Regions from separate parts of the Homo sapiens genome. Here regions 1 and 3 are each linked to region 2. A link means that fine-mapping ties the variant in region 2 to the plasma level of a protein whose gene starts in the linked region. Region 2 holds a variant in brackets. A gene starts in each other region. All regions are shown on their reverse strands.

Evidence for each region. PIP is the posterior inclusion probability: the model's chance that the variant is causal. The UK Biobank Pharma Proteomics Project read protein levels with antibody pairs (Olink). The fine-mapping took linkage between variants from a reference panel, not from the people measured, so its PIPs are less certain.
Region 1: SELP starts here. The variant in region 2 is fine-mapped to the plasma level of the SELP protein (UK Biobank, PIP 0.98).
Region 3: it holds the start of CPXM1, and the variant in region 2 is fine-mapped to the plasma level of the CPXM1 protein (UK Biobank, PIP 0.92).

The regions. Positions count from the first base shown.
Region 1 is chr1:169,626,797-169,633,310 of GRCh38, reverse strand. It overlaps SELP (selectin P), which reads left to right and starts at 3,187. Exons shown (of 17, transcript NM_003005.4): 1 at 3,187-3,239. The coding sequence starts at 3,237.
Region 2 is chr16:81,834,239-81,840,752 of GRCh38, reverse strand. All of the region lies in intron 2 of PLCG2 (phospholipase C gamma 2), which reads right to left. Among named protein-coding and RNA genes, the nearest start is that of PLCG2, 58 kb to the right of the region's middle. RefSeq lists an enhancer at 3,581-3,770. The variant G/A (reference allele first, on the strand shown) is at 3,389.
Region 3 is chr20:2,797,748-2,804,261 of GRCh38, reverse strand. CPXM1 (carboxypeptidase X, M14 family member 1) reads left to right here and starts at 3,635. Exons shown (of 14, transcript NM_019609.5): 1 at 3,635-3,861; 2 at 5,369-5,536; 3 at 5,725-5,834; 4 at 5,971-6,110; 5 at 6,204-6,294. The coding sequence starts at 3,690. RefSeq lists enhancers at 3,092-4,077, 4,078-5,065, 5,066-6,053.

The DNA of each region.
Region 1 (6,514 bases), not on the chromosome of region 2:
GTTGGAGGTGTGGGTGTGTGTAGTACAGCCTCAGAGACAGGGTCTGGAGCGCAGGTGTGCACATTACTACAGCAGCTCTGGAGTTGAGAATATGGGTTACCTTTCTACAGTGGCTGAACTAGTGTCTGGAGCAAAGACTTTCACAGAGAGAACTTGGCTTGGGGTCCCAGGGTGAGATCTAGTTCACAACAGCAGTGACTCCAGTGTCTGAGACATGAGGAGGTGCACTGCAGCCACAGAGCCACAGTCCAGAGTGTGAATATCTGTAGAGCAGCCACAACTTTTGGGGATCAGGAACACACATAGACTTGTGAGAGGTGGTAACCCTGGCCCCAGTCCTGGGGCAGTGCAACAATAGCTGCTTCTTGGTGAGGGGGTGTGAGGGGTAGTGCAACTGTGTTTCCCTTTTTAGCATCCTGCTATGGGAATGGCTGTTGGATAAAAGATGCCAGTGTCCTCTGTGGAGCAGGACACTGGGGGCCTCAGTGGCTCTGTGTCACATGACTGACACAGATAGCCTACAAATTTCTTTATTCGTAGCTATCTCCTGGTGTCTCATATATGCCAGTCTCACCGGTGATTCTTCTACATGGATATTCTTTCTTTTCTCCATTGTGTTGTTCCAAATTCTTTAACAGGCTCTTGAGCCCCATCCCCCAACTCCCCACCCTTGTGAGGGCTATTTTGGTTTGTGTATAACTGTCTATGTTTGTTTTTTTGTTGGGGCATAAGGCTGACATCTCCTACTCCACCATCTTGCTAATGTCACCTGCATAGGAATCTTTTTATGCTTTCCTTATATTCACTAAAATTTAACAATATCAAACTTAAAAACATATGATCAATTGAACTTATTAATATCAAACTTATTATAAATAAGAAACTACCAGGCTGGGCATGGTGGCTCATGCCTGTAATCCCAACATTTTGGGAGGCTGAGGTGAAAGGATCACTTGAGCCCAGGAATTCAAGACCAGCCTGGGAAATATAGAGAGACCCTATCTCTAGAGATTTTTTTTTTTAATTAGCCAGTAGTGATGGCACACATCTATAGTCCCAGCTACTCAGGAGGCTGAGGTGGGAGAATTGCTTGAGCCCAGGAGGTCAAGGCTGGAGCAAGCAGTAATCATGCCACTGCACTCCAGCCTGGGCCGCAGAGTGAGACCCTGTCTCAAAAAAAGAACCTACTAGTCTACATACCACACTTCCTCATCCCCATCTGAGACTATATATATTTTTTCTAACATGAGGCAATGCCAAAAAGAGGGGCTGGTGAGTGAAAGTAAGAACAGAAAGACATGGAGGCAAGTCTTATAGAATAATAGCCAACACTTAAACTTACACTTAACAGCGTGATAGGTATTGTTCCAAACACATTAAATTCATTTAATGGTCCTTACATGTCTATGTATTTGGTGATTATTATCCTTATTATTCACATTGCTGAGTGTATTATTCTGTTCTCATGATGCTGATAGAGACATACCCGAGACTGGATAACTTATTAAAAAAAAAAAGGTTTAATGGACTCACAGTTCCACGTGGATGGGGAGTCCTCACAATCATGGTAGAAAGCAAAAGACACGTCTTACATGGCAGCAGGGAAGAGAGAGAAATGAGAACCAAACAAAAGGGGTTTCCCCTTATAAAACCATCAGCTCTCATGCGACTTATTCACTACCATGAGAACAGTATGGGGGAAACCACCCCCATGATTCAATGATCTACCAGGTGCCTCCCACAACCTGTGGGAATTATGGGAGCTACAATTCCAGATGAGATTTGGGTGGGGACACAGCCAAACCACATCACTGAGGAAACTGAGTTATAGGGAGATTAGTAACGCCCAACACAGCTGGTAGGTGGTGGAGCCAGGCAGTCTGACTCTAGGGTCTGGACTCTGAACTGCATCATGCTGCCAAGAAGTTCCTCATTTTTTCCTCTCTCTAAGTTTCCCTTATTCCCCTACAGTCATTCCTTCAACAGCATTTCCTTCACCATCTTTTCTACTTCTACTATATAATTAATTTTTTCTTCTTGGTCCCAAATTCCAACGTGCAAATGCAGCCTTATATACCCTAATTCATCTTTACCTTTAGACTTTCTTCCAATGTTTCTACTTCATTCCATTTTAAATTTATCCATGAGATGCCTATTTACAAGCTGTAACCATCATGAAGTGAATGAAGAATAATACCTACTACTGTACAATAGAATTCCAAGAGTATAAATAGGAGTTATGGCTTTCTGACTTGAAACTAAATACTTGATACTTGATTTTGCTGTCTGAGATCAATCTGAAAAGTAATAATAATCACTAACATTTGTTGAGCATCAATTGTGGGCCAAGTGTCATTTCAATCACTCTGTACATATTAACTCATTTCATCCTACAACAACCCGGTGAGGCAAGTTCTGTTATTCTGTTTTACAGTTGAGGAAACAGAGGCATAGAGAGCTTAAGTAGTTTGCCCAGTAGATAGCCAGAAGAGGAGCCAGGATGGGTCTCGGGCAGTTTAACAGCACAGCTGAAGTCTTAACCACTATGCCAACAGCTTTTTGGTCCTACACATCCCATGGGAAGAGGAAAATAAAAAGGTATCTATTTGTATACCTTTTTATTTCTGATATAAGAAGCAGAATTCCTTTCACATGACCTATGTCTATTTAATACGTCATTTTGAAACTTACCAATAAAATTTCCCAAGCGCCAGAAAACTGTTAGTGGCTTTTTCCATTTCTCTCTATTTTTTTTTGTGCTACTAATTTTGCTTCTTTCCCTCAGAAGGCTGCCGGAATAGTAAACATTCACTGACATGTCATAATTACTGGAAAATGGGCACTGGAAAATCACATTGTAATTAATTCAAAGCATGTTTTCCAAATGTACTACTTTAAATTGGAGCTTATATCATAATCCAAGGAAACCTTTGTGTGTGTACTGTTCCCACATTGCTCAGCCTGGGATATCCAGGAGTAATTCACCTTGCGCCTGCCTCCAGACCATCTTCCATGGAAGGGGGTGACCCCTTGCCTCTTGGCAACCACTATTTCTAAGCTGCCAACATTACTCTTGCATTATCAACATTCTAACTTCATGGGAAGGGCTGTGGTGAGTTTCTGGAATGTGAATAGGAAGTTGTTTTTCTAAACAGCCTGACACTGAGGGGAGGCAGTGAGACTGTAAGCAGTCTGGGTTGGGCAGAAGGCAGAAAACCAGCAGAGTCACAGAGGAGATGGTGAGTTTATTTTTTTCTGCATGGGAAGTGGTTGAAGTGAGTTGGAGTGGTATGGAGTAAAGTCAGGCAGGTAAAGGTTCAGAAAGTGAGGAACAGCGATAGCCATGGAGTTTTATGTTGAATTGCCTATTAGATTTTGTGAGTACTTTTAAACTTGCTGTCCACTTTGACCCTCCCAACACCCTTGTGAGTTGAGGTTGCTATTTCTATTTTACAAATAAAGCCATCGTGGTTTACAGAGGCTGTGTTTTATCTAAGCTTCACTGTTAGGCTACATGATGTTGGGATCTGGGGCCTGTCCTCTGGCTCCGCAGCTGCTGTTCCTCCTACTAGAATTTATAGGGGCTCTCTGAGAATAGATCATGGTAAACCTGTCACCCCATTTTCCAAGACTGTACTTCTCTCTGGGATAAATGATGGAATAAATGGAAGACTGGGTAGGTGCCCTGGGACAAGCTTACAATTGAATAGTTTCTCATCCCCATCCCTCCCATTTCTTTCTGTGAGCCTATGAATCTTCTGGGACTGATCTGGAATATCCACATAGTTTCCTTTTCTGCCCTAAGACTCAATCTTGTTAATGACTCAGTTTCTTCTTCTATAAAATGGATATAGTAATAATACTCTATAGTTTCATCATGAGGATTAAATAAGATTTTGCTGAAAAGCATCCAGATCTGAGCCTGACACATAGTAAGTGATTAGTAAATGTTAGCCATTATTGTTACAATAAAAAGAAAATTCTTAGGAATAGTGGGGTTTAGGATTCAGGGAAGATCCAAGGATAGCTAGGCATTTTGAACTCAGCAATGTTATATGCTCATGGATAAGATGCACGTGGTTAGGCTACTTCTAATTCAGGGAAGATCCAAGGATAGCTAGGCATTTTGAACTCAGCAATGTTATATGCACCTAGATAAAATGCACATGGTTAAGCTACTTCCAATTTTCCTCAGACTTTCCAAGAGTATCCCACATAGTCCCAGGGTCCGAAATCCTGCAGTCTGTGGCTATGGAGGAACCAGGCAGGTCTCTGTTTTTGAGCACCTTTCTGTGGGACTCCAGAAAAAAGTACCGCATACACCTGATTCATCCTACTGCTTTGCTTTACTATAGCACACTTTTCAAGTACTTATAATGTGGGTTTCTGTGTTGGGGAAAACAGGAATAAGAGTATGATAAAGAGAAGAGGAAGGAGTTTGAGCCTGTCTTAAGTTTGAACCACAATGACCTAAGGATATGAATTACTTTTGTCCTGTCTTTTTGCATGTCATACTTCTGAATTGGTTAACTTAAATGAGCAGTTATTCCTCTCTTCCTTCTACTCTCCTTGGCATCCTCCTCTATTTCAAAGGTATGAACTTATTGGATCAGAGAGTTCTTTGAGATTTTGATGAAAGTTACAACTTGTCTTTCCCAGATGAAAGCAAAAACATCGACATAAACACCAACCTTTAGAGACAACCACAGGAGGTTCCCAGACCTCCATGTGGATCCCAGGGTAAGAACCCTTCTCGATTGCCTCCTGGGCTTTATGTTCAGAAGCCCCTCTCTTGGTACCCTGAAATTAGGCTTGAGCTCTACAGCGAAGTGCTAAGGCCCCAGCCCTGGAATGGTTTTTAATATTTCAAAGACAAGACCTCTTCCTTTTCCTCTGAGCACATTTGGCCCCAAAGATTCAGAAACCTCAAACTGCCTGTGTAAATTTTGCTTCAAGTTCAGAGAGTGGCTTTAATTAACTTTTAGGACCTGAGAAAATGAGGATAAGGTTTTTCTGGTGGGGTATTTTCAATCAGATAGATCTCAGAGGAGTAGCTCTTGATTGGGAACTTATAGTTAAATTGCACTGATGTTTGTCAAAGTTTTAGCGGGCTATGGCCGGGCTCAGTGGCTCATGCCTGTAATCCCAGCACTTTGGGAGGCCGAGGCGCATAGATCACTTGAAGTCGAGAGTTCAAGAGCAGCCTGGCCAACATGGTGAAACACCATATTTACTAAACTTACAAAAACTGGCTGGGCATGTTGGCATGTGCCTGTAATCCCAGCTACTCAGGAGGCTGAGGCAGGACAAACTCTTGAACCCAGGAGGTGGAGGTGGCAGTGAGTTGAGATCACACCACTGAACTCCAGCCTGGGTGACAGAGCAAGACTTGTCTCAAAAACAAAACAAAAAAAAAGTTTTAGTGGGCTAAGGAGCAGGTCTGGATTTTCGTCCATTTATACCTTTTAACCACCTTATGTGGCTTCCAGTCCTTACTCTTCTTTTCATTACCTGTTTTTCAAAATGCAACTAAAATAGTTCAGACTCTCCTGGGCTAGCCACCAGCTCTTAGAATGTGCATCTTCAGAGATCTTTAAGTAGAAGCTTATTGATCAAATCCTCAAAAATCAAAATGACTTACTACATAAAAAACTGTGTTTAGAAAAAACCCTGGACCTAAACCTAGAGAGTAGGCACACAGTGGTTTTATAAATGACATTCATTATATTGTCTTCAAGGTGTCTAATCTTTTTGATTAAAAAGTAAATCAGAAACTTCATGAAGTCAAATACAGAGCAAATCCTCACTATTTGTAGAGATATAACTCATCTCTGATCCAATAGACTTTTTAAAAAATTTTAAGTGTCGTACTTTATTTTTAATGCTAATATTTTACTCAAAATAATGGCAATTGGTAGTCTAAATTAAATATATGCTTGGATTCTAAGTGTTGATGTCCTGGGTCCCTTCTTGTCTATATTCATAATTTGCTCTTTGGCTTAGAGACAACCTCTTTTCTCACTGTATTTCTTTTTCCACCCCTAAGCTGGGCTACCAATATCTGTGCCACACCACTAACACCACCACCGTCCAGAAACATAAGGGAACTAATGTATTAGCTGTAATAGCTTGTAACATCTGGGCTTTGCTACCAACAAGTTGTATAGTTCTGCATCCTCAACAACTCTCATATTCACCTCCCCTATTTGCATTCCCACTGATGCCAGACCAAACCTGTCCCTCTTTAACTCTCACTGGGACCATTGCAATAGCCTCTTCTTTTGCAGTGCAATCTCCCTGATTGTAACTCATTTAAAAAAAAAAAAGTATCGCACTACTCTCACCCCTATAATATCAGCATTTTTGGAGGCCAAAGAAAAAGTATTGCTTGAGCCCAGGGGCTCCAGGCCAGCCTGGGCAATATAGTGAGAACTTATCTCTACAAAAAATTAGCCGGGTGTGGTGATGCATGCCTGTAGTCCCAGTTACTCAGGAGGCTGAGATGGGAAGATCA
Region 2 (6,514 bases):
TCTGTGGCCCGTTAGGAATCGAGCCGCACAGCAGGAGGTGAGCAGGGGTCTAGCGAACATTACTGCCTGAGCTCCACCTCCTGTCAGATCATCAGCGGCGTTAGATTCTCATGGCAGCACAAACCTTATTGAGAACTGCACATGTGAGGGACCCAGGTTGTACACTCTTTATGAGAATCTAATGCCTGATGATCTGTCACTGTCTCCCATCACTCCCAGATAGAACTGTCTAGTTGCAGGAAAACAAGCTCAGGTCTCCCACTGATTCTATATTACGGTGAGTTGTATAATTATTTCATTATATATTACAATGTAATCATAATATAAATGAAGTACACAATCAATGTAATGCCCTTGAATCATCCTCACACTATCCCCCCAGGCCAATCTGGCCCATGGAAAAGTTATCTTCCACAAAACCGGCCCCTGGTGCCAAAAAAGTCTGGGACTGCTGCTCTGAGACACCTATGGGCATCCACCCAGGCCATGACAGGGTGGGCAGCTCAGGGGCCAGCTGTCAGGGCTCAATTCTAAGCATGCTCTCCAGGCAGCCATCTCATCGCCCTTCGTTGATTGCCGATGTTTCATTTCTCAATCATTTCCAAACTCAGGAGACAATGAGAAAATGAGGAGCTTTATGTGCTCACCACTAACACCCCCAGCATGGGCCATCAAATAATTCTTTAAGTTTTTTTGGAGACAAGGTCATGCCCTGTCACCCAGGCTGGAGTGCAGTGGCACAATCACAGCTCACTGCATCCTTGAACTCGTAGGCTCAAGGGACCCTCCTGCCTCAGCCTCCCAAAGCCAGGTGACTGGGACTACAGGCATGCACCATCACACCTACCTAAGTTTTCTCTTTTTAGTAGAGACAAGGTCTCACTATGTTGCCTAGGCTGGTCTCAAATCCCTGGCCTCAAGTGATCCTCCCATTTTGGTTTCCCCAAGTGTTGGGATTACAGGCATGAGCCACCATGCCCAGCCTAAATGTTCATCATTTTGGTGCCATTTAAACTTGGTGTTTTTCACCCTCCTGCTGGTAATTAAATTTAAATGGTGCCCACCCTTTGTTATGTCTTAACTGTAGTATATTTTAAAATATATTGAAAAAATACATACCTGGCACCTCTAAACTATGAAATCAAGTTTCTTTTCTATATAAAATTAAGTTTAAAAATAGTGAATCAATATTAAAATAAGTATTAGATATAAAATAGTACTCATGGTATGCAAATATAACAAAAATTATTAAGGCAATAAAGGAAGGGCTCATTACTTTATATACAGCCTATTAATATTTTAATAGGCTAATTCTGCTTTTCTTTAAACCAGTACTGTGTATCAAAATTACACAGAAAACTCTCATTATACAAAGACTATATAGAGATTTTTTTTTTTCCTCACACATGGATTGACCAGTTTTGGGGGGTGGTTTGGAGCCATATGACATTATTTCTCAAACTGCAAACATTTGTTTATCAACCTTATAAGGTTTGTTGTATCTGCCTACTGCTGATACTATTTATGTGATAGTTTTCTTTAAATCAACTCACCGTTTTCACCTGAACTGATGTATGTTAAGAGTGATTTTATGTTTTTGGCAAAAAGAAAACCAGTAACACTCACCATATACAATAGGAACTGCAAAATAATAAAATCAGTGGAAACGTGACAATATGATTAAATTCTACCTAGAAATAGTTGTCTGCTGGAAGCAAAACCCTCGGCTTGGTTCTGTGAGTCATAAAGGGAAATGAGAAGCCTTTAAGAGAGGCACAAAGCCAATTAGCCATGCAAGACTCACTGATGGGGTCAGAGTGGTGTCACCTAAAGAGAGGACTGGGTCACCGGGACCCGAGGAATGGCCACAGAGGTGGACCCATGCTTAAAGCCTTGAGCCTTACATGCACCATGTGTGCATTTTACCACATCTATGTTATTTACATATATATATATATATATATATATATATATTTAATTTTACTTTAAGTTCTGGGATACATGTGCGGAACGTGCAGGTTTGTTACATAGGCATACCTGTGCCATGGTGGCTTGCTGCACCTATCAACCCATCATCTAGGTTTTAAACCCTGCAGGCATTAGGTATTTGTCCTAACGCTCTCCCTCCCCTTGCCCCCACCCCCTGACAGGCCCTGGTGTGTGATGTTCCCCTCCCTCTGTCCATGTGTTCTCATTGTTCAACTCCCACTGATGAGTGAGAACATGCGGCGTTTGGTTTTCTGTTCCTGTGTTAGTTTGCTGAGAATGATGGCTTCCAGCTTCATCCATGTCCCTGCAAAGGACATGAACTCATTCTTTTTTATGTCTGCAAGTTATATTTTAATAAAGACATTTCATATCTTTCAGGCTGGCAACGGCGGCTCATGCCTGTAATCCCAGCACTTTGGGAGGCCAAGGCAGGCAGATCACATGAGGCCAGGAGCTCAAAACCTGCCTGGGAAACATGGTGAAACCCCATCTCTACTAAAAATATAAACATTAGCCAGGCATGGTGGCAGGTGCCTACAGTCCCAGGTGCTTGGGAAGCTGGGAGGTTGAGGCAAGAGAATCACTTGAACCCAGGAGGCAGAGGTTGCAGTGAGCCAAGATCAAGCCAGTGCACTCTAGCCTGGGCAACAGAGCCAGACTCCGCCTCAAAAAAAAAAGAAAATTAGTATCTTTCAAAGACAGACATGTTAAAATTTTGGAAATGGAATTGGTGTAAGAAATCATTACATTGCTTTAGTCTCTTGACTATGATGGCAGATATAGGATGCTATGCATGTGACCAAATTGTACATAACTAAATACACACAAGTACAAGGAAAATGGGGGAAAATCTGAATAAGACTGGTAGTGGGTTCTATGAATGTTGTGAATGTTAATATCCTGGCTGTGATACTGCACTACAGGTTTGCAAGATATTACCATTGGGGATAATTGGGTAACGTTCACATGAGATCTCTCTGTATCATTTCTTACATCTTTATGTGATTCTTCAATTATCTCAACAAAAATTCCAATGGAAAAAAATGCACAGCATCAAGGAGAAAAAAAAAAAAAAAAAACACATGTTGGTACCAAACAGATGTTCTTGTCATAATCAGGAAGACGGAAAGGGAACTGAGAAGGAAACCACACTCCCAACCTTGGTTCAGGCTCCCTAGGCACTGCCTGTTGTTAACGCTTTGCCATGGCACCCACGACACGGGGGTCCCTGCGGAGAGCATCCCTTACTCCTCCCAGGGGATTCTACCAGCCACCTCTGGGCTCCGCCTTCTGCCAGGACCCGTCCTATTTCCCGCCCAGCTAGAAATAGATGTTCATGCAGCCTCCTGATAAGCTGGGCACTGAAACCCAGAGGAAGTGGCCTGCAGGGTGCCCACTC[G/A]TTTGGAAAAGGCAAAGGTCACACAGCTATAGAAGCCAGCTGGGACCACAATTCCTAGGAATGTCAGCAAGGAGTTGAGGTAGTCTGAGAACTGGCAGAAGAGTAAATGCAGACTTCCCTTTCAACAACAGCCTTTCATTTGATCACACACTTTTCTGACTTCCATCTGAAGCAGCACTGCATGTATATGTATTCTCGTTCTTTGAGTTTGCTAGTTTGTCTTTTTTTGTTTTTGTTTGCTTTTTACAGCAAGAGAAAGGTTCTCAAAATACAGACAACTACCTTAACTTGGATGGCCTGGAATAAATTCTAGAGTTGTAACTGATGTTGAGTCTTCCCATGGAGAACGCTGGTCCTCAACTTCCTACTAAGGACCTTTCGGCTTCAGAGAAAACCAAACAGGAGGAAAGGGAAGGGAAACCACATGCACAGAAACACTGAGTACATGCCCGTGTGCACAGCAGGGGTCCTGACACCTGTGCACTCATGTAAGGCTGAGATGACTGTCTTCCTTCCACAGGTGGGGAGGCTGAAGCAGAGAGAGTCACTGACTCATTCAAGGTCACAATGGTTGAGCCAGAACTTGAACCTGAATGGCCAGGCTCCAAAGTTTGCACTCGTTTTTGAGACATAGTGTTGCTCTGTTGCTGAGGTTGGAGTGCAGTGGCACAATCTCAGCTCACTGCACCTCAGCCTCCTGAGTTCAAGCGATTCTCCTGCCTCAGTCTCCTAAGGAGCTGGGACCAAAGGAGTGTGCCATCATGCCCGGCTAACTTTTGTATTTTTGTTGGAGATGGCGTTTCACCATGTTAACCAGGCTGGTCTCAAACTCCTCACCTCAGGTGATCCACCCACCTCACCCTCCCAAAGTGCTGGAATTACAGGCATGAGTCACCTTGCCCGGCCCAAAGCTTGCACTCTTAACCACTACCAAGGGAAGGATGAAACGAGAAGCCAAGATCCAAAGTGCTCTCCCCTGCAGACAGCAAAAACCTCTTGGCTCCACCAGTGGGAATACGAGTCCATGGCTGACACGTGGGCCAATACAGGGCACCAGGAGATCCACGATCCAGTCCCACTGCCACTACCTTACTGTGTGACCTTGGGAGAGTCATTTTACCTCCCTGGGCCTCAGTTTCCCCCTCTGAGAAATGCAGGGATTGGGTCAGCTGTGTCATTTGGATAGTCTCTAGGGTATGAAAACACTAGTTGACACCAATTCAGGATGAAAATGACTCTGGTCTTGTCCTTGGTGGCCCTGGAAAGAAAGTATAAACGGGTAATGTTGGGGGTTGAACTGCATCCCCCAAAAACATACATAGAAGTCCAGTCCCTGGTATGTGTGAATGTGGCCTTCTTTGGAAATAGGGTCTTTGCAGATGTAGTCAAGATGAGCTCATGCTGGATTAGGGTGGGTCCTAACCCAAGACTACTGTCCTTGTAAGAGGGAAATTTGGACAGAGACACACTCAGAGGGAGAGATGGGAGTGCCAATATCCACCAGCCAAGGGACACCCAGGGTCACCAGCAGCTACCAGAGGCCAGGAAGAGGAGAGGAAGGATCCTCCCCTAGAGCCTCCAGCGGGAGCACTGCCCTACCAACACCTTGATTTCAGACTTCTAAGCTCCACACTGCAAGGGAATAAGTACATTTCTGTTTTAAGTCCCTCATTTTGTGGCACTTGTGTTATGGCAACCACAGGACACTAATATAGGTAATAACATGGTTTTCCTATTATCTTCAATTATTATCATTATTATTATGATTATTATTATTATTATATTTGAGACCGAGTCTTGCTCTGTCGCCCAGGCTAGAGAGCAATGGCACAATCTCAGCTCACAGCAACCTCCACCTCCCAGGTTTAAGCGATTCTCATACCTCAGCCTCCCAAGTAGTGTCACCACACCCGGCGAATTTTTGTATTTTTGGTAGAGATGGGGTTTCGCCATGTTGGCCAGGCTGCTTTCAAACTCCTGACCTCAGGTGATCTGCCCGCTTTGGCCTCCCAAAGTGCTGGGATTACAGGTGTGAGCCACCACACCCGGCCATCTTCATTATTATTATAACAGCTACTTACTAAGTGTTAGCTGTACGTAAGGTAGTATATTAACTGCTTCACCTAAATTATCCCATTTCGTGCCAGCCACCCTACGACAGAGGAGTCATTATTATACCCATTTTGCAGACATAAAATTCTAAGGCTCAAAGCAGACAAGGAGCTTGTCCAAGGTCACACAGTGAATCAATAACAGAGCTGACACCAAACCAAGTAAGTGGCACCTGGAAGGCCACTTCCTCCTCTTTGGGTACCTCCACCTCCTCCCACTGAGAAAAACAGTGTTCATGACACCAGGAGGTGGGCAATGGGCCTTTCCCCTGCCCACAGGGTCTGTTCTCCAGAGAGCAGATTACAGCAAGGACTTGGCACTTTTGCAGTAGTACCCAGTTCTACAATGGACCAAGGCTGCCTCCCCATCCACCCAAGAGGAATCCAGAGTTAGCCATAAAAGACCAAAGGAACAAATAAAAACTCCTCAGCTCATGGCCAAGAAGCTCTGGGGACTGGCAGGAGGTTTTGTTAAAGGAGATTGTCCTCGTCCTGGGAGCCCTTGTAAAGGGCAGCCATGCCTTGGTCCAGTGGGTTCTCCTCCCCACCCTGCTCAGATCTCACCCTGTCCCAGGTGGGTCCTACCAGAATCTTCCTCTCAGGAACATCCCTCAAGGAGCCCCAGCTCTGAAACTCCCAACAGCAGCAGCAGCAGCAGCAGCTCTGCAGATCCAGGGTCTATCAACCACGTGACGAGTGCTCTCTGTCCATCATCTCAGCGGTCTCTCCCAAAGCCCTAAGTAACTACCATTATCATCAACTCCATTTTGCAGAAGGGGAAACTGAGGCTCAGGCAGGTTGGGCAAGCTGGGGTCTGAGTCCTGCCAGTCTAGCTGCAGGCCCAGAGTTCTCCAACACCACCCGCGCCGGCTCCTGGGCTAAGACTCTCACACAGACCGCCCTCACAATTCTGCCAGCAGCCAGCAGAACACCGAGCCCTCCGAGGTCAAGTTCAGGGCAGAAACACCTACTGGGACAGAGAACAAACCAGGTCCCCCTTACTGAACATTTAATA
Region 3 (6,514 bases), not on the chromosome of region 2:
CTAGGGAAAGAAGCCTGGTACCAGATGTGGCTTTAGATAATAGGAAAGTACCATTCTGAGTTCTTCAGATAAGGTGCTTTGCCTCCTGATGGTCTGCTTGATGGCCACCAGGTGATCCTTGCTCTCCTCATTTTCCCCCTGATAAATATTTTGGGCAAATCTTTGACCCTTTGTATTTCTCCATGCTCATGTCTACTTGTCTGTTAGGATCCCAAGAAAGGGAAAATGGCACAGTGAAGAGGGGTGTCCAGTCTATCTGGCTACTTCCTGCTGAAAAGGGGCATTGAAAGGATTCCTTTCTTGCTTTCTGTCATGAAGGGAATGAAGGGTCATGATAAACTTGTTCATGGAGGGAAGACCAGATTCCATCAAGAGGCCCCATGAAAATAGAAGTTGCTGTTGCAGGCTGGTATTGGGATTGCATAGTCATCTGTAGGTGGAATCATTGTAAGCTGGAAGATATAAGCATTAAAAGGCAGGAATTACCGGCATGCACCTCCATGCCCACAGATTTTTGTGTTTTTAGTAGAGACAGGTTCTCACCATGTTGGCCAGGCTGGTCTCCAACTCCTGACCTCAGGTGATCCGCCCGCCTCGCCTTGGTCTCCCAAAGTACTAGGATTACAGGTGTGAGCAACCACACCTGGCCCCTGGGGTCTCAATTTGTGTATTTATGCATGGCCTCCACCAGTCTAGCTTGGAAAAGGGCAGGGCTTTCAGATAGTTTCATACATACAAAATTATTATTTCTTTTTATTTTATTTTATTTGAGATGGAATTTCGCTCTTGTTGCCCAGGCTGGAGTGCAGTGGCGCAATCTCAGCTCACCACAACTTCCGCCTCCAAGGTTCAAACGATTCTCCTGCCTCAGCCTCTGGAGTAACTGGGATTACAGGCATGCACCACCATGCCCAGCTCATTTTGTATTTTTAGTAGAGATGGGGTTTCTCCGTGTTGGCTAGGCTGGTCTCAAACCTCAGGTGACCCGCTCGCCTCAGCCTCCCAAAGTGCTGGGATTACAGGTGTGAGCCACCGCGCCCAGCTATTATTTCTTATAATTTAGAAAAATTAACAGGTTTTATTATATATTTTTCATTCCCTCCAACAGAGAAGTTACCATATGATCCTGTCTGCCCTTACCTCTGTTTGGGCCAGAATTGGTGGCCTGGTATTGCCAATAGGTTCTATGTTGGGGACAGCTTCTGCCCAGCTCTGTTATTAGGACTGGGAGCATGAGCTTCATCTGCCCATGCTGAAGATCACACGTGTGATTTTTTGTGTGTGGGAACAGCAGGTAGTTAATACCACAAATACATCTTGCCAGGTTAAATCAAAGGCAACAGTTAAAGTCTGAAATTCTTGAATGAACTTAGAGGGATCCTGACTAAATGAACCCAACTTGGATTGAATTTGCAAAAGATCAGACATGATCAGAAAAGGGACATGAACTTGGCTTGTTCCCAAATCTTCATTAGCCACCTTAGGGAGAGGCAAAATATTTTGGGGATTTTTCTGAGGACTCTGTACTAGTAGCATATGTGACTCCCCTGAGAGTATGTGAAGGGGAGAAAGTATTTGGGTATGTGGGTGGGAGATTGACTAGGGAATGGAGCAGATGGAGAGGGTGTAGGTGAAGAGTGAGCAGGTTGAGGAGGATGTAATAGGCAAAAGGAAGGATCATCTAAGACATCAGAACCGGGAAGGGAGGACGTTCCTTGGAAGCATACATGACAATTTGTATGTAATTTTGGGTTTGGATTTGGGGATAAAGCAAAAAAGACCTGAACATATGGGACTTCTGAATCCTTTCCAAGGTTCCGGCAAAAAATCAGTTAAGTTGTAAAGTAGCATTGCAATCCCAAGTTTCATTAATTGGCCAAATTGATTGATTAGGGAGCTTGTATTGAACCCAAGCAATATTAGAAAAAAGGATATGCTTTTTAAACTCTTATTTATTTTTTATTTGTATTTTTTGAGACAGAGTCTTGCTGTGTCGCCCAGGCTGGAGTGCTGTGGCGCCATCTTGGCCCACTGCAACCTCCGCCCCCGGGGTACAAGTGATTCTCCTGCCTCAGCCTCCCTAGTAGCTGGGATTATATGTGCCCGCCACATATAATTAGCCCCCTGGCTGATTTTTTTTTTTTTTTTGTATTTTTAGTAGAGACAGGGTTTCGCCATGTTGGCCAGGCTGATCTCGAACTCCTGACCTCAGGTGATCCACTCGCCTCGGCCTCCCAAAGTGCTAGGATTACAGGTGTGAGTCACTGTGCCCGGCCAAGTTTTGCATTTTTAGTAGACTCCCGGTCTTTAACTCCGGACCTCAGGTGATCTGCCTGCCTTGGCCTCCCAAAGTGCTGGGGTTACAGGCATAAGCCATTGTGCTCAGCCTTATATGCTTATTTTTAAGAGTTTGTGGGTCAAAATGAGACCAATGGGACCATTTTTAAGGAGGCAATCCAAGGGCGAGTTGGATGGAACTGAATTAATTGAACCGAAGTTGGGTTTAGACAAGGAACTACAAGATCCCTGAGGCATCCCTGTGTAGAATTGAGATCCACCGCTTCCAGGACAAGGCTTATGGAGTGTTAAAATGAAAGTGCCCTGCCACTCTGACAGGCAATAGCTCTTTTGTCTTGGCCTTGGGGTAATACCGGGGGATGGCGCTTGGCCAGAAACTGTCAGTTGCCAACGAGAACTCAAGCTGGTTCACTGGCAGTCCGAAAACAGAAAAGAGCCCTGGCCAGTCCCTCACCCCTAAGGGCAAGGACAGCCAGGTATCCCTTCTCTAGGGCTTCAGGATCCCACAGAAGAGCTGCCTCCACCGGGACCGGCAGTTCCCCAAAGAGTAAAGAACCAGACCGTGGAAGGAAGCAGAGAGAAAAAGGAAGAGGGAAATCCCAGTGAAGTCCCCGTATGGGCCACCAAGATGCCAGGCGAGGTGTCAGAGCTCCGGAACCGGGAAGTGGTTGGCTCCCGGGTGGTAAAAGAACTTATCAACAACCGTGTAGGTCTGAAAAGGAAAGTTTTATTAGACGGAAAGGACGAGGCAGCAGAGCGCAGTAGGCGCTTCAGCAAGAGAGGACTGAGCTCCCTGCGGGGAACTGCAGGGTAATTTGGACCACATTAGTCACTTAGGTCATGGTAAATGGTTACATTTGTCGATATTTTGGTGCCTTGATGTCAGCAAAGTTTGCACAATGGGTCTTAACGTGCACTCATTCCGGAAACGTACAGAAATTCTAGTTACTTATAAATTCTTGGGACGGAAGCTTGGTACCAGATGTGGCTTTAGACAATAGGGAAGTGTCATTCTGAATTGCTCAGATAAGGGGCTTTGCCTCCTGTTGGTCGACTTGATGGCCACCAGGTGATCTCTGGTCTCTTCAGTGTGGCTTTGCAGACTATAAAGGCGCAGCGCGCCAACGAGGCGGGTTGGCCCCAGACGGCGGAGAGGAAGGGCAGAGTCGGCGGTCCTGAGACTTGGGGCGGCCCCTTGGAGGTCAGCCCCGCTCGCTCCTCCCGGCCCTCTCCTCCTCTCCGAGGTCCGAGGCGGGCAGCGGGCTGTGGGCGGGCAGGAGGCTGCGGAGGGGCGGGGGGCAGGAAGGGGCGGGGGGCTCGGCGCACTCGGCAGGAAGAGACCGACCCGCCACCCGCCGTAGCCCGCGCGCCCCTGGCACTCAATCCCCGCCATGTGGGGGCTCCTGCTCGCCCTGGCCGCCTTCGCGCCGGCCGTCGGCCCGGCTCTGGGGGCGCCCAGGAACTCGGTGCTGGGCCTCGCGCAGCCCGGGACCACCAAGGTCCCAGGCTCGACCCCGGCCCTGCATAGCAGCCCGGCACAGCCGCCGGCGGAGACAGCTAACGGTGAGTTCCCCGACCGACGGTCCGCTCCCCCGCAAGCCGACTGCCCGGCTCTCCTGCCCCGTGGGGCGATCCCTCCCTAACACGCGGGCACACGCACACCCACGCACACTCACAGTCATGCACACTCACCCCGCACGCACACTCGCACTCACGCGCACACACGCGCGCGCACTCACACACATTCACACACGCGCACACTTGCACTCACACGCGCGCGCATTCACACGCATGCACACACACGCACACTCACACGCGCGTGCGCGCACACACAGTGCACGCGCGCGCACACTCACACTCACAGTGCACACACACATATACACACTCACACTCCCTCAACTCCCTGCTGGGAGCAATGGCTGCTGACTCGGCAGCCCCAGTTCCCTGCCAGACCTAGTCAGCAGTCCCAGGACAGGCGCCAGTGGGATGCTGCCTCTTCCAAGCCCCAAACCTTCCCTTTTCACCAAAGACAAAACAGGCCAGAACTGGCAGGAGGGGAGACAGAGGGGCAGAAGCTCTCAAGGTGCAGAGCAAGACTGCGTAGGAGAGAGTTTGAAGGCGAGGGCTGGAGAGAAAGAACAAAAGGAAAGAAGGGAGAGCCCCTCGCTGAGGCTGCCGGGAGGATGGGGCAGAGCGGGAGAGGAAGGCAGCCCGACCTCCCAGCTTTCCAGATGTGGAATAGGAGAGGAGGAGCGCAAGCGGAGGGCACTCAGGGGCTTCTAGAGGAGGCAAGTGGAGGAGGGTCTTGAAGGGTGATGTCCCCGAGTCAGGGGAGTCTGGAGAGAGAGAGAGAGAGAGGGCTGCCAAGAAGGAAGCGGCGGGCAAAGGCACAGGGGCACCAGATGCGGAAATGGGCAGCCTGTTCTGGAGGCAGCTGTGGAGCTTCGATGGGTACCCCCAGCACCTGCCTGGGCAGAGCCTTGTGCTGAAGGGCCGGCGGGCAGGCCCAGCCCTGAAAGCCTCGACACCCAGGCAGACATGGATTCCAGGACAGGCCATCTGAGCCCAGAGAGCAGACACAACAATGGAAGCGGCACAGGGGTTTTGGGGCATGATGCTGAGTCTGGAGCTAAGAAAGCCTCCTTGGAAAGGCATCTGGGCTGAGATGCAAAGGAAGAATGGGAATTAGGTGAAAAAATCAGAGGCGAGGGGTAGCATTACAGGGGAGGGGATAGCTAGTGCAGAGGCCCGGAGGTAAAGTGCCAGACTCAGCTCTTTGGAGCAACCGAACAGTTTCTAGAGGCTGGGTGCAGCTCTCCATTGGATTAGAGGTTCACAGGGGAGGCTGGCCAAGCATGTAGTTACATCAGGGAGGAGAAGGAGGAGCCAAGGAAGTGACTGGAGAGGCAGGTTGGGGTCAGATTGCAGGCCTTTGATGTCCTGTGAAGGCTGTTAGATCCTGGTGGTGTGGCCTGCTGTGGGCTCACATGTCTTCTTGGGCTGGCAGACCTTTCCATCCGGGGTTTCACCATTCTTCCTTTCCCCCATGCTGTGCCTCTCGGACCCCAAGGGACCTCAGAACAGCATGTCCGGATTCGAGTCATCAAGAAGAAAAAGGTCATTATGAAGAAGCGGAAGAAGCTAACTCTAACTCGCCCCACCCCACTGGTGACTGCCGGGCCCCTTGTGACCCCCACTCCAGCAGGGACCCTCGACCCCGCTGAGAAACAAGAAACAGGTACTTCCTCTCCAGGGGCCCAGCCCAGACTTGCAGCCCCTGGGGCACTTTACCAGCACAGCTCTTGGCCTCATGGGCACCGGCACGCCCCTTGCTTGCCTAGCGCAGGAGCAACCTTAGGCTCAGCTTCCCACCTGCCCTGGCTACCCTCCCTCTGGTCCTGTCTCACTGTTCTATCCCCGCCCCAGGCTGTCCTCCTTTGGGTCTGGAGTCCCTGCGAGTTTCAGATAGCCGGCTTGAGGCATCCAGCAGCCAGTCCTTTGGTCTTGGACCACACCGAGGACGGCTCAACATTCAGGTCAGTAATCCTGGCTCGGAGCCATGGTCTCAGGGTAGGGAAGGCAGCCCCTGGGAGCTTCTCTCCTGCCTCCTCTCTGTCCTGGCCTGCCCCACTCTGTCCAACTGGGCCTGACCACCATGTCCTGTGTCTGCAGTCAGGCCTGGAGGACGGCGATCTATATGATGGAGCCTGGTGTGCTGAGGAGCAGGACGCCGATCCATGGTTTCAGGTGGACGCTGGGCACCCCACCCGCTTCTCGGGTGTTATCACACAGGGCAGGAACTCTGTCTGGAGGTGAGGCAGACTAACCCTAGGTCAGGAGGTCACAGAAGGACTGGGGTGGGAGTCCTGGGGGCACCGATGATCTCTCTCCACCTCTCCTGCCAGGTATGACTGGGTCACATCATACAAGGTCCAGTTCAGCAATGACAGTCGGACCTGGTGGGGAAGTAGGAACCACAGCAGTGGGATGGACGCAGTGAGTGGTCCCACTGTGGCTGGGGCCTCCATGCTGGGAGTTGGGCACCCAGTCCAGGCTAGGCTGAGGCTCCTCTGAGGACAAGGAATAGACGCCAGCTTAGGCTTCCCAGGGGGGTGTGGCTTGTTGTCAAGAGGGTGGCACACGGCAGGCACCATTGGGAGCCAGCTGCTTTGGGACATGCCCACATCCTCCCCAGATAATGCCACCACAGGGTGGG